4 linked regions of the Homo sapiens genome follow. The protein of the gene in region 2 purifies or fractionates together with the protein of the main gene of each other region. This does not show direct contact. Each region holds a gene or a part of one and is shown on either strand. Other genes may lie near its edges.

Region 1 (5,607 bases), on a different chromosome or scaffold from region 2:
ATGGAATTTCGCTCTTGTCACCCAGGCTAGAGTGCAATGGTGTGATCTCGGCTCACTGCAACCTCCGCCCCCTGGGTTCAAGCGATTCTCCTGCCTCAGCCTCCCAAGTAGCTGGGATTACAGGCACCTGCCACCACACCTGGCTAATTTTTGTAATTTTAGTAGAGACAGGGTTTCACTATGTTGGCCAGGCTGGTGTCAAACTCCTGACCTCAGGTAATTCACCTGTGTTGGCCTCCCAAAATGCTGGGATTATGGGTTTTTTTGTTTGTTTGTTTGTTTGTGGAGATGAAGTTTTGCTCTGTCACCTAGGCTGGAAAGCAATGGCACGATCTTGGCTCGGCTCACCACAACCTTCGCCTCCTGGGTTCAAGGGATTCTCCTGTCTCAGCCTCCCGAGTAGCTGGGATTACAGGTGTGCGTCACTACGCCTAGCTAATTTTTTGTATTTTTTTTCTGAGATCGAGTTTTGCTCTTGTTGCCCAGGCTGGGGTACAGTGTCACGATCTTGGCTCACTGCAACCTCCACCTCCTAGGTTCAAGCGATTCTCCTGCCTCAGCCTCCTGAGTAGCTGGGATTACAGTCGTGCGCCACTAAATCCAGCTAATTTTTTGTATTTTTAGTAGAGACGGTTTCATCATGTTGGCCAGGCTGGTCTTGAATTCCTGACCTCAGGTGATCCACCCACCTCAGCCTCCCAAAGTGTAGGGATTACATGCGTGAGCTACCGCGCCCGGCCAATTTTTTGTACTTTTAATAGAGACAGGGTTTCCCCATGTTGGCCAGGCTGGTCTCGAACTCCTGACCTCAAGTCGTCCACATGCTTTGGCCTCTCGAAGTGCTGGGATTACAGGTGTGACCCACCACGCCCGGCCTATTATTATTATTTTTGAGACAGGGTCTCGCTCTGTCACCCAGGCTGGAGTGCAGTGGCACAATCACGGCCTACTGCAGCCTTGACCTCCTAGGCTCAAGTCCCCTGAGTAGCTGGGACTACAAGAACAAGCCACCATGCCTGGCTAATTTTATTTTTATTTATTTATTTTTTGTAGAGGCAGGGTTTCGCCCTGTTGCCCAGGCTGGTCTCAAACCCCTGGGCTCAAAAGCAATCTGTCCCACTTGGCCTCCCAAAGTGCTGGGATAATAAGTCAGCCACTGCACTTGGCCTGTATCACTTAAACACATTTTTTTGAAGATGAAAAACAGAGTCTCAATGTGAAATTTCATTTTTCATTTTACTTTTGAATGTTATATAGAAAACAGTACAATATATGGCTTATTTTTGAGGTACTACAGTTTTAATATTTTTTTCCCCTCTGATGACATGCTAGTGTTTAGCCTGATGCTTTTAAGTTTCCCCCCCTTTTTTTTTTCTGAGACGGGGTCTCCCTTAATCACCCAGGCTGGGGTGCAGTGGTGTGATCTTGGCTTACTGCAGCCTCAACCTCCCAGGCTCCGGTAATCATCCCACCTCAGTCCCCCAGGTAAGCTGGGACTACAAGGGCGTATCACATGCCTGGCTAATTTTTTGTATTTTTAGTAGAGACAGGGTTTTGCCATGTTGCCCAGGCTGGTCTTGAACTCCTGGGCTTAAGCCATCTGCCCACTTCGGTCTCCCAAAGTGCTGGGAGTACAGATGTGAGCCACCGCGCCTGGCTGAGTTCCAAAATAATTTCTAGTACTGAGGCTAATCACAGAGATCTCTCAAAATTAAAAGATTACTGCTTCCTCTTTAAGATCTAAACATTATTGTCTCTCTTTTTGGAGCCCTTCTTCCTCCACTGCCAGCTTCATCTCTCCCTAATCCCACCCTTCACCTCATCTAGGGCCCCACACTAAGGCAAATAAACAAACATAAACATAAGATGACAGCAAGTATGAGAAATTTAAAAATAAAAATAATTTTCTTTACTAATTTCAGAAAATCCTTTTTTTTTTTTGAGACAGTGTCTCACTCTGTTGCCCAGGCTGGAGTGCAGTGGCGTGATCTCGGCTCACTGCAACCTCTGCCTCCTAGGCTCCTGTGACTCCCGTGCCTCAGCTGGGACTACAGGCATGCGCTACCATACTTGGCTAATATTTGTATTTTTAGTAGATACAGGGTTTCACCATGTTGGCCAGGTTGACTTCAGAAAATACTGATAGCATTATTATTATTTATTAGCAAGAGTAATATTACAACAGTATAAATGACCTGGCACACCTCTAAGTTACTTTAGTAACTCTGAAGCTCTCTGTAAAAAAATAAGTGTGTTATGTGCATAGTGCAATGTCATATTTCTTTAGTAGTATCTTTTGAGGTTGTATTCCATCATGGATCAAGAACGTACTTGAATAAAAAGGTGAGGTACCTAGTGATAATTTTAAATATGTTATCTAATGTCTTAAAACATTATTTCCAAGTAATGAGAATTAAAAAAAAGGAAGTCACAGAAGGTGGTCACAGCATAAGTAAGCATTATGGTTAAAATGTAACTGTAGGCAGTCCTTGCTTTGTAAGTAGCAGAGTAAGAGACATTCAAGCGATGCTTGTTAGACTTTTGTCAGCACTGATAACTGGCTTGCTATTAATGCCAGCCCAGTTCCAGCTAGTGTTTGTGAGCGTGTTCTAAAGGATGTCTGGCAGTAAGAGCTGGGTAGAGTGAAAGTGAAACTGTGCCATGTTTCTCACTGGGAGATACTGAAATAAGTTACTAACTGCTGGATAAATGTCACTCAAAAGCAGTCTCTTGGCTTTTTCTTAAACAGTGGGCAACCTTCCCTTTGAATTCTCCATTTCTGTCATTCCCTCATTCTTCTCATGCATTGACATTAGCAGGCGAGTCTCTATTAGGGTCGGCCAAAATAAAAATGACACTAATTATGGTTTCCAAGGTGTAGCACAGGAGCAAGCATTCTTTTGGCTTTTATCCTTCCCAGGCTCATGAAGAACAGAAATGCACATATTACCACAGAGAAGTGCTCATAAAGAAAGGTGTGTACTTTAGCACGGAAATTTAAAAGTGTCTATTGAGACTGAATTGAGAGCATCATTAGAGTTTAGTCACAGTATGGCTAAATAGGTTTTTATGCTTGTCAAATAATTTACCAACTTTTATATTATTTCTTCTTTTTTAAAAAATGTTTAAAACAGAGAGGGGGACTTGTTATGTTGCCCAAGGTGGTCTCAAACTTTTGGTCTCAAGCAATCCTGCCTTGGCTTCCCAAAGTGCTGGGAATACAGGTGTGGGCCACCACACCTGGCCTATATTATGTCTATGAGAAAGAATATTCTAATACAAATGATTTTTTATTACAATAACCCCTGTTTATTATATTCATGAGTTTTTGCTTATTATCATTTCCAGACAAGTTCTTCTTTTTTTTTGAGTCGGAGTCTCATTCTGTTGCCAGGCTGGAGTGCAGTGATGCAATCTCAGCTCACTGCAACCTCTGCCTTCCAGGTTCAGGTGATTCTCCTGCCTCAGCCTCCCGAGTAGCTGGGACTACAGGCATGCGCCACCATGCCCAGCTAACTTTTGTGTTTTTAGTAGAGACGGGGTTTTACCATGTTGGCCAGGCTGGTCTCAACCTCTTGACCTCATGATCCGCCCGCCTTGGCCTCAAAAAGTGCTGGGATTACAGGCGTGAGCCACCACGCCCAGCCTCCAGACAAGTTTTTAAAGAAGCAAAATAAAACAAAAACACACACGTACACGTGAGGTAGGAAGCCATGTCCAAGGTGGCATACCCTTATACAGGAATAAAGTGGGCTATATTTCCAAATACTGTGATTTTAGATACATTATTATTTGGCTCTCAAAGGAACCAGTAGTATATGAAATGCAGTGTATGTGTGAGATACTGGAAAATACAGACATAGAAGGTAAACTTGAACATGTATGGTAAATAAAGTGTTCTACTGTTAAACAAATCTGCGTAACTTCCCCTAATATCTAAACAGTGGGGAATCTGAATGCGTAATATCCGTAAAGAGTACAACCTCCAATGAGATACCAAAATGTTTTAAGTATTTTTATTTTTCAAGATATGTTAAATAATTGGATATGTTTTAAAGGGTGCCTTCAAAAATTACGTTTCTTTTTAAGAGACGGGGTCTCACTATGTTGCCCAAGCTGGAGTGTAGTGGCTATTCACAGGTGTGATCATTGTGCACTATAGCCTTAAACTCCTGGGCTCAAGCCATCCTCCTGCCTCAGCCTCCCAAGTAGGTGGGACAACAGGTATGTATCACTGCACCTGGCAAAAATTACCTTTTAATAAAGAAAAAATTATAATGTTCTATTTATCATTTTTCTCATACGCATCACCTTAAATAGAAAATCTCAACGGCTAGCAAGTCTAACCTTTTCTATTTGCTAACATTTGAACGACCACTACTGCATGAAAATGACCCTATATGGACTGTAAGTGAAGTATTACCTGGTAACTGAAGTAAGTATTTATAGGGTTCTAGAAGAATTCTTTGGACTGTTTCTTGAGTCTTCTCCATTGGATTTAAACTTCAAAGCTAATCTGTCAAAAAGGAGAAACATAAAGATCACATGAAACTAATCATCTTTCAGTGTCAAACTGCAAAGGAATTTGTATTGCAGGGTGTTTGTGAAAAGACACCTAGTCTGGTTTAAAAAGAAGATTCTGTTGCTGGGCACGGTAGTTCACGCCTGTAATCCCAGCACTTTGGGAGGCTGAGGCGGGCGGATAGCTTAAGCCCAGGAGTTCGAGACCAGCCTGGGCAACATGGCAAAACCTTGTCTCTACTAAAAATATGAAAAATTAGCTGAGGTGGGTAGATCATGAGGTCAGGAGTTCGAGACCAGCCTTCACACCATCTCTACTAAAACTACAAAGATTAGCCGAGCATGGTGGTGTGTGCCTGTAGTTCTGGCTACTTGGGAGGCTGAGGCAGGAGAACTGCTTGAACCCGGGAGGCAGAGGTTGCAGTGAGCTGAGATCACACCACTGCACTCCAGCCTGGGCGAAAGAGTGACTCCAGTCTCAAAAAAACAAAGCAAGATTCTACAGCTATGAAGCCTTGAAAACATGTTAAGTGAAAGAAGCCAATCTCAAGAGACTACATATTGTATGATTCCATTTATACGAAATGTTCAGAATAAGCCAATCTACAGAGAAAGAAAGTAGATTAGTGGTTAGGAACAGGGACTAATTGCTAATGAGTACAGGGTTTCTTTTCGCAGGGATCAAAATGTTATAAAATTAAATTGTGATGGTTGCACAGCCCTGTGAATACACTAAAAACTGCTGAAATGTACACTTTAAATGGGTGGTATGTAAATTATATCTCAATTAGAAAATTCTTCATTCAAGTGATTATATTGGTCAAAGTGTTGTCTTGGTTTTTAAGTTGTTTTCTTAGTCACATAACTTATATTAAGCTTTTCCTATTTTAATCAACCACAAAAGGCTTAATTTGTTGACGGCAAATGTCAAAACACATCCAAAGAATTGGAAAGATACCTCTGTATTTAACTGATTACACTAATTAGTAAACATATCCTTTTTTAAATGAGCACTAAGATGAGTATGTTTTATGTATTTAAAATTTAAAGGGATTCTCCTCGTCCCCCTAGTAGTTTCTCTACAAT
Region 2 (5,921 bases):
TCTTCTCTAAAACCTCCAGGGACCATGCTCTAAAGTACAATGCCTAAGTCCCTACCTGTGGCCCTTTCTCCTCCCCTTTCTCTGTAAATCCTTTGCTTCTTTCCTTTAGGCTCAGTCACCTTTATAGAGACCAAGAGCATGGGCTCCTGAGTCGGACAAGCAAACAGCTCAGTCCCTGTGCCACCACTTACAAACTGTGACCTGGCCAAGTTTCCTCAGGGTTCTGTAATTCAGTCTCATCCTTAAAATGGAAAGAAAAGTCTCTGTCCTGTTGGGTTATTTTAAGGATTAATACCTGCAAAGCACTTGGAACTGCTTAATAAGTGGTACTGTCTGAAAATGCCAGATTCCCTTCTGCCTTCCAGCCTTGTTCACTTTCCAAGGAATATTCTCTCTTGGGCCCTCCACCTGCAACTAAGGCCCTAGCTGACCCCCGTTGAACCCATGGAACTTCCTTGAAAGTAGGGTTGTCACACTTAGGCAGAGGCAGGAGAAAGTCTGAAGAGAGCCAGAGGACTGACAGGAGAGAAGGGAAGCAGGAAAGACAACTGAGCTTGATCTGAAGATTGGCTGGGACCACTGGGGAGGGGAAGGCCTGCAACTACTGAGCGTTCCCCCTCCTCTCCCCTCACACTGCAGGAGGGTGATTATCACCAGTGGAATAAATGAATGTCAGAAATGTCCACTGGCTGAGTTAGGCTGGAATCCCTACCAGGCAAGGCCACTACTCCAAGCTTCGCCCCAGCAGGCCAAGCCTTTCCACCCTCTGGCTGCTGCCACCATCCTAGTGGTAAAATTTCTGGCCCAGGGGCCTGGCAGAGGTCTTCCAGGTAGGGGTGTGGCCTCTCTGGGCACCCGTCTATTTGCCTGTGTCCCAGCGGAGGGTTCTTTTGGCAGGATGGGGAAAGGGTCAGGAACCCATTAACAGGTGGGGAAACAATGTCATCACTCTGGGGCCAACCTAGGGATTAGAATCAAGGTCTCCCAGGCAGACAGTAGGTGGGCCAAGGCCCCACTGTCTTTCACTCAGGCCCGGTGACTTCCCCTTGGTAGACTGATAAGCATCAGCTCTGAAGGCTGGCTGGATGCTGGGTCCAAAACCTGACCTCAGGGTTCTGACTTTGTAAAAATGGTGTAATTATTACCTACCTTAAAGGGTTGCTATAAGGGCTAAAGGAAACATTGCATTGAAAGCCCTGGCACAGTGCCAAGTGCGGACTCCCCATAGCACTTTACAGATTTTACTGTTTCTTGCTTCTGGCGGGCGTCTGGATAGAGGCATGGTGCGGCAGAGTCTCGACTTTATTCTCAAATATTGGGAAAGTAGCCTGGACAACATAGCGGGACCTCCTCTCTAAAAAAAAAAGTTTTTTAAATTAGCCTGGGGTGGTGCTGCACGCCTGTAATGCCAGCTAGTCGGGAGGTTGAGGCAGGAGGATCGCTTGAGCCCAGGAGGTCGCGACTGCAGTGAGCGGTGATCGCTCCACGGCACTCCAGCCTGGGCGACAGAGCGAGGCCCTGTCTCAGACAACAAAACAAACTTACAAAAAAACCGGGAAAGGTGAGCGTCTGGACTGTGGGCCGGAAGAGGCCCAAGTGGACCTCCTTCCTCCACCCTGGAACTCTGGCCAGAGGCAGAGCGCGAGGTGAGGAGTCCAGGGCCCCAGAGCCCAGGATTGGCGGCGGCTTTGTCTTCAATCGTCCACCTGTATCTCCTCGTCTGACAGGTGGGGCCGGGAGTCAGGGCCGGCAGGGCCGAGGCAGAGGCCGGGATCTGGAGCGCCTTCGGGCAGTGCTAAGCTGCACAGGACTTCCGGGGACAACGCGCGTAGCGAGGCGACGTCGGCGCGCATCTCCTCCACATCGCGCTTGAGCTTGGCTCGCCGGTTCTGGAACCAAGTGACCACCTGCGCGTTGGCCAGGCCGAGTCGCGTAGCTAGCCCGTCTCGCTCGGACGGCGCCAGGTACTTCTGGAAGACGAAGCGCCGCTCCAGCTCCAGCACCTGTTGCGCGGTGAACGCAGTGCGTGACTTGCGCCGTTTGCGGCCGAAGGGACCAGGGCCCAGCGCGTCCGGACCTGCCCGCCCTGTAGGGATAGGGAGGGGGTCAGTTTCCAGCCTCCGGGAATCAGGCTGGGCCTGGAAAGAAAAGTTGGGGGTGGGGTCGGGCCGGTGGCGGTGGGGGAAGTAGAGGGAGAGCCAGGAAGGCGGACGGAGACCAGAACTGTGATCCCTTATCGGGAGTCAGGCCCAGGTGGGGATATGGGGCGCAAAGCGGGCTGGCCACAGGGGTGCGAAAGGCAGCAGGCTGAGGGCATATTGTAGGGGCAAGGAAGTGAAGGAAGGGAGGGATGATTCAGAGGTGCAGGGTCAAACCTTCTGGGGTGGAGCCTTTGAGGCTTTTAGGAGCCTCAGGCTGAGCAGGCTATAAGTTGAGGGTGACATCAGAGGCGAGTAAGAGTCAGGGCAGCCGACCCAGCGTGGTGGTGGTAACAGGACTTAGATCATGCCCTTCCATGGATCGGGTCGGGCATTCGGTTTACAGTTCCTTAGTGACACCAGAGCCCGCTCCTCCGGCCCCAAAGGGAGATAATGAGGTACAGAGAGCGAGAAAAGGCAGAGTGCGGAATCCCGCGCCCAGTGCTGCGCCAAGGGCTTTCTGCTCCTTGACTCCCCTCGAGAAGAGAGTGGCTTGGAGCGGAGCTTGGTCACCCGGAAAGACTCGACTCTCCAGCGCTTTCTGTGCCGCCTTTGCAGGCTCACTCGTTTACCGCCTGCGGCTGAAGCCTTTTGTCTCTTTCTCTCCTGCCTTTCTCTATCGCGATTGCCCCGCCTACAAGGAACAGAGCAACAGGTCGCTCAGTTGGCGACGGTCTGCCCTTTTCCCTTGGCACTGGCGGCCTTCCGGAGCCGCCGCGGAACCTAGGGACTAACGGAGGAGAGGTGAGAAGTCGCAGGTGCGAGTCCTGGCACGTGGGCTGAGGACAGGGGAGGATTAGGGTGGGTGGCCTGGGCTGGGACAAAGGTTTGAGACGGGGAACCAGGAGGAGAGAGGTGAGGAAAAGGCTAAGTCAGAGTCCGCGACCTTGCCGGCTCTATACCTTCAGAGGGCTGCAGAGCGCGCGCGTCAAGTCCGCGGAAAGTTTTACTAGTCAGCTCCTCCAGCGCGCACAGCGGCGACGTTGGACCCGGACCCGACTCTGGAAGCTGCGGCGCAGAGGGTGCTCGGGGGACCATGCGCGGGGCTAGGATGTCTGCGATGCTTAAGAGTGTCCGGGGTGTTCGGGGCTCGCGTCCCGAGTTCATGGTCGGCCGGGCTGGGGCGGTCCGGCTGTCCGTTGCGCTAGGCTCCGCAAACGCCTGGGCCCCAGTGCTCGGCTCCCAATCCGGGCCCCCAGCCTCGGACCCGCCCCCGGCTCTGGGCCCGAGTCCCGTGTGCCCCTCCTCCTGCGCCCCCACCTCTCCACCCCGGGCCGCGGTGGATCTGGAGCTCCTAGATGTCCGGGGAGGGTATTTCTACAGGCTGGGGCAGGCGCGGAGAGCAGAAGCCGACCAAACTACCCACCAGAGCAGGGCCACGGGGCTGCTCCGCGCTGCGGGGCGCTGCACCGTGCACAGTCAGGCCGGGCCATACCTCCAGACGCTGTATGCCGCCGACTCCCCGCCTAGCCGCCGCTCCGGCTCATAAACTAGTAGACGATAAAATTGCCTTCTCTGGCCCCAGCGGCTGGGGATTTGCAAAGTTCTGAGGAAGGCTATCAGGGCTGACTGTGCTGGGATCTCTGATCCCAGCTAGGACCTCAGTCTCCTAACCTGGCTCCCTCTTCCCCACCCCACCCCTGAGAAACGTTGTTTCTGGTCCTGACGGCTGGAAGTGATTAGTGCTGCATGGGTCGGGGGCGCAACACTTGGGAGGACCTGGCCTGGCGGAGCGACTGCAACTGGGAATAGTGGGGATGCCACGAAGAAGCAAGCACAGGTGAATGGACCCGAGGCTGCCCCACCTGACGAAATCAGAACACACAGAGAAGCTGCCGGGAGACCCGGGCCGCAGGAGAGAAGACCCAGGGAACTCCCAGCTGGTGCAACTGCCCAGGAGGGGTCTTTGTCAGTGAGGACTGGCAAAATCAGTCGATTTTGTCTGTCTTTATCTTCTTTTTATTAAGCTCCCATAGTTCAGGTATGTATGGTTTCCCCAGCCTGCAGAGGCTCAGAAACTGCCAAGGGGAGCAAGGTGCCCTGACCAGAGAGGGGTCACTCCCCATAGAAGAGAGACTTGAAGGGCAGACTTCACGGACCCAGCTGGATCTTGGGACATTCCTGACAACCCAGGTACTAACTGTGAGGCCTGGTATACTCATTCCTATTTAATCTGGGCCCTTTTTATCTGCCACACTTATTCTGGTTCTGGGCTCATACCTGGGTAAGCACCCACAGCCCTCCTTTGTAGGAAGAAGGCAGCTCAGGGACAGTGGGGCCTCAGCAGTTGAGGCCCAGCAGGGTATGGGTTTTGTTCCTACATTCCACCCCAAACAGCTGGAGGATTCACACCTTAGAGCAGGGAAGCCCTGCCACTCCTGAGGAGCTTGCTGCTTTGCTGCCCAGGGAAGTCAGAAACTGATGTGCTTCTAGCTTTTTAAAACAGTGTCAGGAAAAACCAGGCCAGTCCCTCCTGGACTGTCCATTATGTCACTTTCCTTGTAGACCCCTGCATCTCCCACCATCTGTGCAGTGTCCACCTGTCTATTCCCTGGGGCAACTGCTGCATGCAATTGGGGTTCCCTAAACAGGGCTTAGGAGATCCAAGGCACCTGGGCCAAAGACTCCTTGACAAAGATGGGAAGGCACCTTGATAGGGTCTTCTTGGTAAAGGGCTCACTCCAACAACCCCCCTCCCCCACCCGCAACATTCACATAATGCCCTCCTGGAAAGCTGAGCAACACACTTAAAGGCTGATGGGCCACTGCTGGATCAAAGAGCAGAGCCAGGCCATGGTGGAAAGCTGAGCTGCCTCAGGACGTTGTTAAATGGTTATTAATGGTGAGGGGCAGGGGAGGGCCTGGAGAGATCTTCGGGCTACAGGCCTCAGCCCTGGAAACCATCCTAGTGGTTTCACTTAATGTGCAATAAAGCAGCTCTCTGGAGGCAGCAGGAACTGCCCCACTGCATCCCAGGCATATCACCAAGCAGATGCTGCAACCTTCACTCATGCATCCTCTATGTGGCTTTTGTGTCTGTCTCTACCTCTGCTCTCAATTACTTACGTGTGTCTGTGAGGAGTGTGGAGCTCTGCTGATGGGCCTGTGCCTCACAGCCCCTTCCATCTCTCCCGCCTAGTTCTCCCCTCTGCAGCTGGGCTCAGGTACTGGGATTGGACAGCTCCTAAACATGAGTTTGGGGGAGGAGATGGAAGTGGAGAGTAGCAAAGGGAGGAGGCCCAGGACAGCAGAGGCCCCTCTAAGGTCGTCAAAGCGGCCAGGGACTAGTCCAGGGGATCGTGGGGCCACAGAAGGGGACTTTTCTCAGTACTGGAACTCGAGCTGGGGCGAAATCGGATCCACAGAGAGGGGTAGGAGGGTGAGTGATTAATGAGGAAGATTAAGAGATTAAAACTTGTTCTGGGTTGGGGAGGGGACACTCACTCGGCTGTCCTATAGGTTACCCCCCACCCCAGCTTGGAAGCACAGAAGCTCCTGGGTGCTCGCCTCTTCCCACCCGCGGGTAGAACCCTCCCTGTTCACGATCCTTCTCAAGAGATGCACGGAGGCCAGCCTTCACCGCTGGCCCCGCGGGGCCAACGGTTTTCCTTTTCAGGCAGTCTCTTGTGTTTCCCACCTTCTCAGATTCCTTTGATTGTCCATTCAGACATTTCGGGGCCCTGCGCTCCCTCCCCTTGTAGAGATCCCCACATTCCAAATTCG
Region 3 (5,607 bases), on a different chromosome or scaffold from region 2:
CGTAACTACAGTGGTCATGTTGTTTTACAGCTTTGTGGGGACACTTGGTAGCTCACGAACCTGGATGCGAGGTAGGATGGACTGCTGGCAATGGCAGTGCTGGTTTATTATTAATCTTCTTCTTAGTTTTTGAGACGGAGTCTCGCTCTGTCACCCAGGCTGGAGTGCAGTGGTGTGATCTCGGCTCACTGCAACCTCCACCTCCTGAGTTCAAGTGATTCTCCTGCCTCAGCCTCCTGAGCAACTGGGACTACAGGCTCCTGCCACCACACCTGGGGAATTTTTGTATTATTAGTAGAGACAGGGTTTCTCCATGTTGGCCAGGCTGGTCTTGAACTCCCGACCTCAGGTGATCTACCTGCCTTGGCCTCCCAAAGTGCTGGGATTACAGGCGTGAGCCAATGCGCCCGGCCAACGGTGCTGGCTTTTATCGCGTGCCTGTTCTGAGCCCTAGAACAGTGAATAATGACACACAGCAGCTTCTGCTATAGGTCTCTGACAACCCATATTTCAGACAAAACTGAGGTACAGACAAGCCAAGCCATCTGCCCAAGGCTAGTCAAACAGGGGAGACACAGAGGCCAACTCGACTGCCCAAGGCTAACCAGATGGGGGAGGCAGAGAGGCCAAGTCGCCTGCCTAAGGCTAGTCAGACGGGGTATTCAGGCCTTGGCCTCCCCCTCTGCCTGCAGTGCTGCGTTACATAGCCTCATCTGTGTCAGCTGCCGAATGACCCACAGCTGCACTAAGCACTGAGCGATATCCCTTTTTCTTTTTGAGACAGGATCTTGAAGGTCTGTGGCCCAGGCTGAAATGCTGTGGCATGATCATGGCTCACTGAAGCCTCAACTTCCTGGGCTCAAATGATCCTCCCACTTCAGCCTTCCAAGTAGCTGGGACCACCAGCACGCACCACTGTGGGCGGCAAGTCACCCAGGTGCCGAGGCAAGAGACCGAGGGCACGAGCTGTTCCAGTGTAATAAAATATATAAAATAAGAATAGTTATACTAGATCTAGATCACAGACATGATTATATATGAATATCATTAATTAATTTGTAGCAATTACTCTTTATTCCAATATTATAATAATCCTCGCTCTACAATCATAACCTAGGAAAAACCAGGTCATACAGAGACAGGAGCTGGGGGGACATGGTGAGAAGTGACCAGAAGACAAGAGTGTGAGCCTTTTGTTATGCCCAGACAGGGCCACCAGAGGGCTCCTTGGTCTAGTGGTAACGCCAGCGTCTGGTAGGACGCCCGTTGCCAAGCAGACCATGGTCTAGCAGTAGCGTCAGTGTCAAGGAAAAACACCCACTACTTAGCAGACCAGGAAAGGGAGTCTCCCTTTCCCCAGGGGAGTTTAGAGAAAACTCTGCTCCTCCACCTCTTGTGGAGGGCCTGACATCAGTCAGGCTTGCCCGCAGTTATCCAGAGGCCTAATCGTCTCCCTGTGATGCTGTGCTTCAGTGGTCACGCTCCTAGTCCACCTTCATGTTCCATCCTGTACACCTGGCTCTGCCTTTTAGATAGCAGTAGCAAATTAGTGAAAGTACTAAAAGTCTCTGATATGCTGAAATAACGGCGTAAGCTGTCTCTCTGTCTCCTCTCTCTCTGCCTTGGCTGCCAGGCAGGGAAGGGCCCCCTGTCCAGTGGACACATGACCCACATGACCTCACCTATCATTGGAGATGGCTCACACTCCTAACCCTGCCCCTTTGTCTTGTATCCAATAAATATCAGTGCAGCCTGGCATTTGGGGCCACTACCGGTCTCCACGGCTTGGTGGTAGTGGTCCCCCGGGCCCAGCTGTCTTTTATCTCTTTGCCTTGTGTCTTTATTTCTACGCTCTCTCATCTCCGCACATGGGGAGAAAACCCACCGACCCTGTGGGGCTGGACCCTACACACCACCACACCCACCTAATTTTGAAATTTTTTGTAGAGACACGGTTTTGCCATGTTGCCCAGGCTGGTCTCGAACTCTCAGGCTCAAGTTATTCTCCCACTTCACCCTCCCAAAGCGCTGGGATTACAGCAGCCATGAACCACTGTGCCGGCCATTTTCTTCCATTTTTAGAGAAGGGTCTCACTCTGTAGCCCAGGAAGGAGCGCAGTGGCTATTCGTGGATGTGATCATAGCAAACTACAGTCCTAACCTCCCAGGCCCAAGTGATCCTCGGACCTCACTGAGTAGCTGGAACCACAGATCCCACCTATGGGACCATATATTCCCACATCACCATATCTGGCTTTTTTTTACTCTAACCTACTTGAGTATCAGAGGGCCCGACCCCCTCATGCCTCTGGTTTTCCAGATGTTTCCTACTGCTTTCATTTTTATTCATTTATTTATTTTGAGATGGATTCTCACTCTTGTCGCCCAGGCTGGAGTGCAGTGGCACAATTTTGGCTCACTACAACCTCTACCTCCCAGGTTCAAGTGATTCTCCTGCCCCAGCCTCCCCAAGTAGCTGGCACTACAGGCACCCATCACCACGCCTAGCTAATTTTTGTATTTTTAGTAGAGATGGGCTTTCATCATGTTGGCCAGGCTGGTCTTGAACTCCTGACCTCAAGTGATCCACCTGCCTCGGCCTCCAAAGTGCCGGGATTACAGGCGTGAATCACTACACTTGGCCTCATTTTTATTCTTTAGATGAACCTTTGAATAATCTGCTCATATTCCCAAAAGATCTTTTGTGTTTTGACTTGGTGTTGACTGATTTTACAGAAGTTAACGTATTTACACTATTGAAATTTTCTAGTCTAAAACAAGACTTATTTCATCTTCCTCAAAGTATAGTTTCTTCATTTAGAAATATTAGGCCAGACGCAGTGGCTCACGCCTGTAATCCCAGCACCTTGGGAGGCCGATGCGGGCGGATCACGAGGTCAGGAAATTAAGACCATTCTGGTTAACATAGTGAAACCCCATCTCTACTTAAAAAAAAAAAAAATACAAAAAATTAGCCAGGCGTGGTGGCAGGCACCTGTAGTCCCAGCTATGCGGGAGGCTGAGACAGGAGAATGGCATGAACCCGGGAGGCGGAGCTTGCAGTGAGCAGAGATGCACCATTGCAGTCCAGCCTGGGTGGCGACAGAGCAAGACTCCATCTCAAAAAAAAAAAGAAATATTAATCTTGGGCCAGGTGCGGTGGCTCACGCCTGTAATCCCAGCACCTTGGGAGGCTGAAGCAGGCAGATTGCTTGGCCTCTGGAGTTCGAGACCAGCCTGGGCAACATGACAAAACCGCATCTCTACAAAAACTACAAAAAATAGCTGGGGGTGGTGGCGTGCACTGTGGCCCCAGCTACTCAGGGAGCTGAGGTGGGAGAATCGTTTGAGCCCAGAACGTCAAGAGTGCAATGAGCCAAGATGGTGCCACTGCACTCCAGCCTGGGTGAGACCATCTCAGAAACAAAACAGAAAGAATAAATGTGACTCTTCTCAAGGTTCTTGGTACATATTGTGTGTACTTCTATTGCTGCACAACAAATCACCACCAACTTCAGGGCTGAAACCAGCACATCCACTTATCATCTTACTGCATTCGTCGTCAGGGGTGCAGGTGCAGCGTGGCTGGGACGCAGGCTGAATTCCAGGGGCCGGCTGCACTGCATTCTCATGAGGAGCTGGAGGACCCTCTTCTAAGCCCATTCTGGTTGGAGGCAGAATTTATTCCCGGTTCAAGGAATGAAGTTCCCGTTTTCTCGCTGCCCTAAAAAGCCTCTGACACTTTTACTGTCTGGCTTCCCTGATCAGGTCGGGCCCTAAAGAGCCTCTGACACTTTTACTGTCTGGCTTCCCTGATCAGGTCGGGCCCTAAAGAGCCTCTGACACTTTTACTGTCTGGCTTCCCTGATCAGGTCGGGCCCTAAAGAGCCTCTGACACTTTTACTGTCTGGCTTCCCTGATCAGGTCGGGCCCATCCAGGATCATCTCGCATTTTGATGACGTCAAACTCAATGGATGAGTGAGCTAATCGCAGGAGAGACACACCTCCCTCTTCCTCATTCCACCCACACTCGAGGGGAGGGTTACACATGGCTGTTTCCCAGGGGCAGGGATCGTGTGGGCTGTCTTGAGTCCTGCCACCTTGTTACCAAACCGCCTTCCAGGAAGATGTGTGCCTCCACAGCAACGTGTCCGAGCCCCTGATCCAGAGTCAACTGATATTCTTTGGCCTCTCATAGATGTAAATATTTTTTTGAGCTTATCATTTGTTCTACAATTGTTTATAAGAGTTTGGGGAGAGGTTTAACATTTTAACGCAGTCAAATTCTTCAATATGTGTACTGTCTTTCCTTGCTAGGAAGCATAAATAGGGTCTTACTCTGTCGCCGGGGCTGGAGGGCAGTGGCACGATCTTGGCTCACTGCAGCCCCAACCTCATGGGGTCAAGGGATCCTCCTATCTCAGGCCCCTGATTAGTTGGGGCTACAGGCACACTCCACTACACCCAGCTAATTCTTGTCTTTTTTGTAAAAATCAGGTTTCACCATGTTGCCCAGGCTGGTCTTGAACTTCTGGGCTCAAGTGATCTGCCTGCCTAGGCTTCCCAAAGTTCTGAAATTACAGGCGTGAGCCACTGTGCTTGGCTCCCAAAGCGAACGTTTTATATAACTATAGTACCATTATCGACACGAGGAAATGGACTCCGGTACTATGAGTGTATGTACAGCTACGCCATTTAATCAATCACCACCAAAACCAACAATCCCATCTTCCTCCTGCTGCCCTTCAGACACACCCACTCCCTACCCCAACCCCAAAGCCCTGCCCTTCACAGACCCCCTCACTCCCTACCCCAACGCCAAGGCCCTAGCAATCAACAATCTGTCCTCCCTGTCTATAATTTTGTCATTCAGAGAATGTTACAGAAATGGAATCACGGCCGGGTATGGTGGCTCACGCCTGTAATCCTAGCATTTCAGGAGGCCGAGGCAAGCGGATCACCTGAGATCGGGAGTTTGAGGCAAGCGGATCACCTGAGGTCGGGAGTTTGAGACCAGCCTGACCAACATGGAGAAACCCCATCGCTACTAAAAATACAAAGATTAGCTGGGCATGGTGGCGCATGCCTGTAGTCCCAGCTACTCCGGAGGCCGAGGTAGAATTGCTTGAACCCGGGAGACCAAGGTTGCAGTGAGCCAAGATCGTGCCATTTGCACTCCAGCCTAAAAAAAAAAAAAAAAGAAATGGAATCATACAGCATGTGACCTTCTGGGATTGGCTTTTTTCACTCAGCATGGTATTTTTTAATAGCCAATAGAAGTGTTCCATTTCTCTTCTTTTTCAAAATTTTCTTGCAATTAAGTATACTCTACCTTCATGAAAATGTTACAGGCCGGGCGTGGTGGCTCACACCTGTAACACTGGCACTTTGGGAGGCTGAGGCGGGTGGTTCACAAAGTCAGGAGTTTGAGACCAGCCTGACCAACATGGTGAAACCCCGTCTCTACTAAAAATACAAAAATTACCCAGGCATGGTGGCGCACACCTGTAGTCTCAGCTACTCGGGAGGCTGAGGCAGAAGAATTGCTTGAACCCGGGAGGCGGAAGTCACAATGAGCCAAGATTGTGCCACTGCACTCCAGCCTG
Region 4 (5,607 bases), about 30 Mb from region 2:
CTCCCAAAGTGCTGGGATTACAGGAGTGAGCCACCATGCCCGGCCCCAGATCTGTTTTTTGAAGTTCACATCAGGTAATTCTGGAACTCACAACTTGACTGACACTGGACCTGAATTTAGAAATTGGAAATGTTTGATGATCAAGTGTTGCCGATCTAAACCTTATTGAATTCATTCAGTTCTGCAGTTCTTATTGGCAAGTACCTCTGCTTTCCATTTTACATTAGCCAGATGGCAAGATGAACTTACTCTATTATACTTACAAGCCAGCCAGTGATATTCAAAGACTAGCATCCATCCATCCAGATATCACATTTCTTTATCTTCCACATCATCCTGCTCTGCTCTGCCTAAAAAATAATTCCCAAAATCTTTAATAGTGATAATTTGAACAAGATACAAAATGAAATTGTATAATTAAAGAGAGAAGACTAAATCCTTTGGTTAAACATGTCATTTGCCTATTTCTACAATACAGGTTAGCAGCTCCTGCAATAGTCTCATATTCATATGTGTGTGTGTGTGTATATATATATATATATATATATATATAATATGTAGTTTTGTATATCTTGCAAAAAGTTTGAGCTACATCCTTTTAAGCAATAGAATGTTATTGAAAAATGTAGGCGCAATCAGATTTGCATTTTAGAAGAATCACTCTGACAGAATAGAGAATAAATTGGAAGTAGGAAGCCTTGTCAGTAACTCAGATGAGTGAAGATGAGAGTCTTTACAGGGTGATTGCTTTTTTTTGAGACAGTGTCTCACTCTGTCACCCAGTCTGTAGTGCAGTGGCACAGTCTCTGCTCACTGCAACCTCCACCTCCCAGGCTCAAGTGATTCTCGTGCCTTAGCCTCCTGAGTAACTGGAATTACAGGCATGTGCCACCACACCCAGCTAATTTTTTTATATTTTAAGTAGAGACAGGGTTTCGCCATGTTGGCTAGGCTGGTCTGGAAGCCCAGCCTCAAGCAATCCACCTGCCTTGCCCTCTCAAAGTGCTGGGATTACAGGCATGAGCCACCGCAGCTGGCCCTGATTACATTTTATTTGAGACATCTTAATGGAAGACTAGAGAGCTTGAGTGATAATTCCTCATCTCTTTGGATTCTAAAATCCAAAAGCCTGTTAGAAAACAAATGATTTTTTTTAACTGATTGGAGGCTGTTGAGAATGGGCAAAACCTGACCTAAACTGACACAAAGCTATTATGATCTTTATCCCAATTAGTAGATGTTTAGCTCTAAAATGTTACTGCATTTGATTAGAGTGTTGTTCCCCTGTAAACTGAGATAAGGTACCCAGTTAACATTCCAAAATCTCAAAATTCTAAAACGTACCTGGTTTATCTTTATGTTTCAGATGGACTTATTTCACAGTCATGTATGTAATCTTACTGATATTCAGATCTTAAGGGTGAAGAAGGCCGGGCGTGGCGCCTCACGCCTATAATCCTAGCACTTTGGGAGGCTGAGGCGGGTGGATTGCCTGAGGTCAGAAGTTCAAGACCAGCCTGACCAACATGGCAGAACCCCATTGCTACTGAAAATCCAAAAATTTTAGCCGGGCCTGGTGGCGCATGCCTGTAATCCCAGCTACTCGGGACGCTGAGGAAGGAGAATCACTTGAACCCGGGAGGTGGAGATTGCAGTGATCTGAGATCGTGCCACTGCACTCCAGCCTGGTGTGATGGGAGCGAGGCTCCATCTCAAAAAAAAAAAAGAGAGGAGGAAAGGATAAATATAACTCACTAGTAAAGTGGAGATTTCAGTAGCAGTTGGATATATGAGTCTGGAATTTGGGGAGAGTTGTTACATGTAGATAGTAGTTGAAGCCATAGGAGTCAAATCACTATATTTACCTCTCTGCTATTACTACATCATTTTAAACTTTTCCTGTCTCCCCATTATATTGGGAGGTCCTTAAAGACAAGAATTTTATAATACACATCTTGCCAGCACATAGCATAACGACTGCCACATTGTAGATAAGCAACGTGTTTATAGAATGAATTAATAGTTAAATTAATGCATTTTTTCTTTTCATATAACCATAAATTTTATTGCTAGAAAACATACCCCAGAAATCATCCCATCTGAGCTCTTTCTTTAGGTCTTTGATACTTTTTTTGTTGTTGTTGTTGTTGAGAGAGGGCCTCACTCTGTTGCTCAGGCTGGAGTGCAGAGGCACAAACATGGCTTACTGCAGCCTCAACCTCCTGGGCTCGTGCTGTCTTCCTGCCTTACCTTGCAAGTAGCTGGGCCCACAACTATGCCCAGCTAATTTTTTGATTTTTTGTGTGTGTGGAGACAGGGTCTCACTTTGTTGTGCGGGCTTGTCTCAAACTCCTAAGCTCAAGTAATCCTCCTGCCTCAGCCTCCCAGAGTGCTGGCATTACATGTGTGACCCACCATGCCCAGCCCTATGACCCATTTTGAGTTCATTTTGTTTATAGTGCAAGGGATTGGGGTACAACTTTATTATTTTGCTTGTGGATATCCATTGTCTGAGCAACATTTGTTGAAAAGAGTGTTCTTTTTCCATTGAATTGTCTTGGTGTCCTTTCTGAAAATCAACTGACCATAAATTCAATGGTTTATTCTTGACTCTCACTTTCATCTCATTTTTGTATATGTCTGTCGTTATGCCAGTACTACACATTTAATTACTATAGCTTTGTAATAAGTTTTATTTATTTATTTATTTATTTTTTGAGATGGAGTCTCGCTCTGTCGCCCAGGTTGGAGTGCAGTGGTGCCATCTCAGCTCACTGCAACCTCTGCCTCCCAGATTCAAACAATTCTCCTGCCAAGGCCCCCCGAGTAGCTGGGATTACAGGTGCCTGCCACCATGCCCAGCTAATTTTTTTTTTATTTTTAGTAGAGACAGGGTTTCACCATGTTGGCCAGGCTGGTCTCAAACTCCTGACCTCAGGGTGATCTGCCCAACTTGGCCTCCCAAAGTGCTGGGATTACAGGCATGAGCCACTGCGCCTGGCCTGTAATAAGTCTTAAAATCAGGAAGCGTGTGTATTCTTTCTAAACAAATGAAGAAACTAAAGCCACAGAGCCTAAAGTTAAGTAAGAAAACTAGTAGAGTCAGAAGTAGACCTAAGTTAGCCTCATTCACAGTACCTTTCTTTTTTAATATCTTGTAGTACAGGTAGACCATCCCTAATACAAAATCTGAAATGCTCCAAAATCCAAAACTTTTTTAAATAGAGACAGAGTCTTGCTATGTTGCCCAGGCTGGTCTGAAGCTCTTGGGCTCAAGCAATCCTCCTGTCTCAGCTTCCCAAAGTGCTGGGATTACAGGCATGAGCTGCCACTCATGGCCAGTGAGCATCTTTTCTTACACTTATTGATCCTATAGTTTTTCTTCTTGAATGCCTATTCTTGTCTTTTGACCTTCTTTTAATTGTCTGTCCTTTTCTTACTGATTCATAAGATTTCTTTACGTGTCCTTTGTCTTTTATATGTGCTGTAGATATCTTCTCCATATTTGTTCTATTATTATTTTTTTCACTTTGTGATATCTTTTGTTAAATATGTTTTTTTCATTTTATGTTTTATGCTGTCTGAATTTTATTCAACTCAGCAAATATTTGTTGAACACCTGCTATGCACCATTCTAGGCACTGGAGATATAACACTGAACAAAATAAACAAAAATCCCTGCCTTTGTGAAGCTTACCATCCTACTTGAGAAAGGAAAAGAGAAAGAATAAAGAATTACATGAACAAGGCTAGGTGCAATGGGTCATGCCTGTAATATACTTTGGGAGGCTGAGGTGGGCTCATTGCTTGAGCCCAGAAGTTCAAGAACAGCCTGGGCAACATGGCAAAACCCTGTCTCTACAAACAATGCAAAAATTAGCTGGGCATGGTGGCGCCTGTAGTCTCAGCTACTTGAGAGCTGAGATCAAGGATCAATTGCTTGAGCCCAGGAGGCAGAGGTTGCAATGAGCCGAGATCATGCCACTGCACTCCAGCTGAGGTGGACACAAGCAAGTCCTCATCTCTCAAAAAAATAAAAAGAATTACATGAATGAAATACAAAGTGGGTCAAAAGCGATAGTTATGGCGAAGAAGAAAAGAAAAAAAAGACGGGGAAGATGTGAATAGGCAGTGTGGGGATAGGGAGGGGTGTTATTTTAGTAAAATGGTTAGGAAAGGCCTAACTTAGAAGATGACATTTGAGCAATAGCTTTAAGGAGGTATTTGGGCATAGGGCCCAAGTTCTAAGAAACTGATATGGGAGCAAGCTTGATATGTTCAAGAAACATCAAGTATGGATTAACTGGAATAAGTGGGCTTGGCGTGTAGCAGTAGATTAGGTCAGCAATGTAATGGGACAAGATTCTTTAGGACTTTGTAGACCATTGTAAGAATTTTTGCTTTTCCTCTTGAGCAAGATGGGAAACCACTGGAGGGTTTTGAGTGGAGTAACATAATCTGACTTCAGACTCACACAAGCTCCTTTGTTGAAAATAGACCAGGAGGCAAGCGCAGAAGCAGAGAAAGCTTTTGGGCTTTTGCAGTAATCCAAGGGAGAAATGATGATGATACTAGCCAAGTAGTCCAGTCCAAGTGTGAGAAGTGGTCAGATTCTAAATATATGTTGAAAGTAGAATTGAGAGGATTTAGCAGACCAGTTGTTTGTGGCAAGAGAAAAAGACAAATCCAACTGTAATGTTTTTAAGCCTGAGTAGCTGGGAGGACAGATTTGTCATTTATGTAAATTGGAAAGATTGCCTGGAGAACAGGGTTTTGTTTTTTTTTTTTTTAATAGGGCGAGGGATATATGGGGAGATTTAAAGTTCAGATTCGGACATTTTTTGGCATATTAGACATCTAAGTAAAAATGTTGGGTAGTCAGTTGGATATACAAGTTCATCTTGGTCAGGATTGTTCAGGCTACAGCTGTAAATTTGGGAGTCCTTAGCATATAAATGGTATTTAAGGTCATGACTGGATGAGATCACCAAGGGAATTAGTGCAGACTGCAAAGAAGAGAAGTACTTAGTGCAGGAATTGAGCTCTGCCAGTGTTAAAAAGCCAGGGAGATGCCAGGCCCAGTGGCTCACGCCTGTAATCCCAGCACTTCGGGAGGCTGAGGCGGGTGGTTCACCTGAGGTCAGGAGTTTCAGACCAGCCTAGCCAATATGGTGAAACCCCATCTCTACTAAAAATACAAAAAAAAAAAAAAAAATTAGCCAGCGTGGTGAGCAAGTGCCTGTAATCCCAGCTACTCAGGAGGCGGAGGCAGGAGAATCGCTTGAACCCAGGAGGCAGAGGTTGCAGGGAGCCGAAATCCCATCTCAAACAAAAAAAAAGCCAGGGAGTTGAGAAGGAACTAGCTAAAGATACTGAGAAGGAAGGGCCAGTGAAGTAAGAGGAAAACAAGGAGAATGAGGTGTCCTGGAAGCCAAGTAAAGAAAAGTGTTTTTAGGAGGAGGAAGTGATCAATTGTATCATGATCCTGACAGGTCAAGTAATATGAATACTGAACATTAACTTTTGCACTTTGCAATGTGGTAGCCATTGAGTGACCTTGACAGGAGCAGTCAGTGGCATAAGAAGAGCAAAAGTCTGGGCTCTAGA

The links.
Region 1: the proteins of LBX2 (region 2) and GGPS1 purify together in Homo sapiens (affinity purification with mass spectrometry; one large-scale study listed by BioGRID and IntAct). This does not show direct contact.
Region 3: the proteins of LBX2 (region 2) and SPATA33 purify together in Homo sapiens (affinity purification with mass spectrometry; one large-scale study listed by BioGRID and IntAct). This does not show direct contact.
Region 4: the proteins of LBX2 (region 2) and PREPL purify together in Homo sapiens (affinity purification with mass spectrometry; one large-scale study listed by BioGRID and IntAct). This does not show direct contact.

The regions. Positions count from the first base shown.
Region 1 is NC_000001.11:235,334,151-235,339,757, reverse strand, and holds part of GGPS1 (geranylgeranyl pyrophosphate synthase), read right to left. Parts: intron 4,517-5,607; 5' UTR 4,494-4,516; coding exon 4,424-4,493; intron 1-4,423. UniProt on the Homo sapiens protein: Catalyzes the trans-addition of the three molecules of IPP onto DMAPP to form geranylgeranyl pyrophosphate, an important precursor of carotenoids and geranylated proteins.
Region 2 is NC_000002.12:74,496,233-74,502,153, forward strand, and holds LBX2 (transcription factor LBX2), read right to left. Parts: upstream 3,372-5,921; 5' UTR 3,306-3,371; coding exon 3,101-3,305; intron 2,087-3,100; coding exon 1,695-2,086; 3' UTR 1,285-1,694; downstream 1-1,284. UniProt on the Homo sapiens protein: Transcription factor.
Region 3 is NC_000016.10:89,662,836-89,668,442, reverse strand, and holds part of SPATA33 (spermatogenesis-associated protein 33), read right to left. Parts: intron 1-5,607. UniProt on the Homo sapiens protein: Plays an important role in sperm motility and male fertility. Required for sperm midpiece flexibility and for the localization of sperm calcineurin to the mitochondria. Promotes mitophagy as well as acts as an autophagy mediator in male germline cells.
Region 4 is NC_000002.12:44,350,698-44,356,304, reverse strand, and holds part of PREPL (prolyl endopeptidase-like), read left to right. Parts: intron 1-5,607. UniProt on the Homo sapiens protein: Serine peptidase whose precise substrate specificity remains unclear. Does not cleave peptides after a arginine or lysine residue. Regulates trans-Golgi network morphology and sorting by regulating the membrane binding of the AP-1 complex.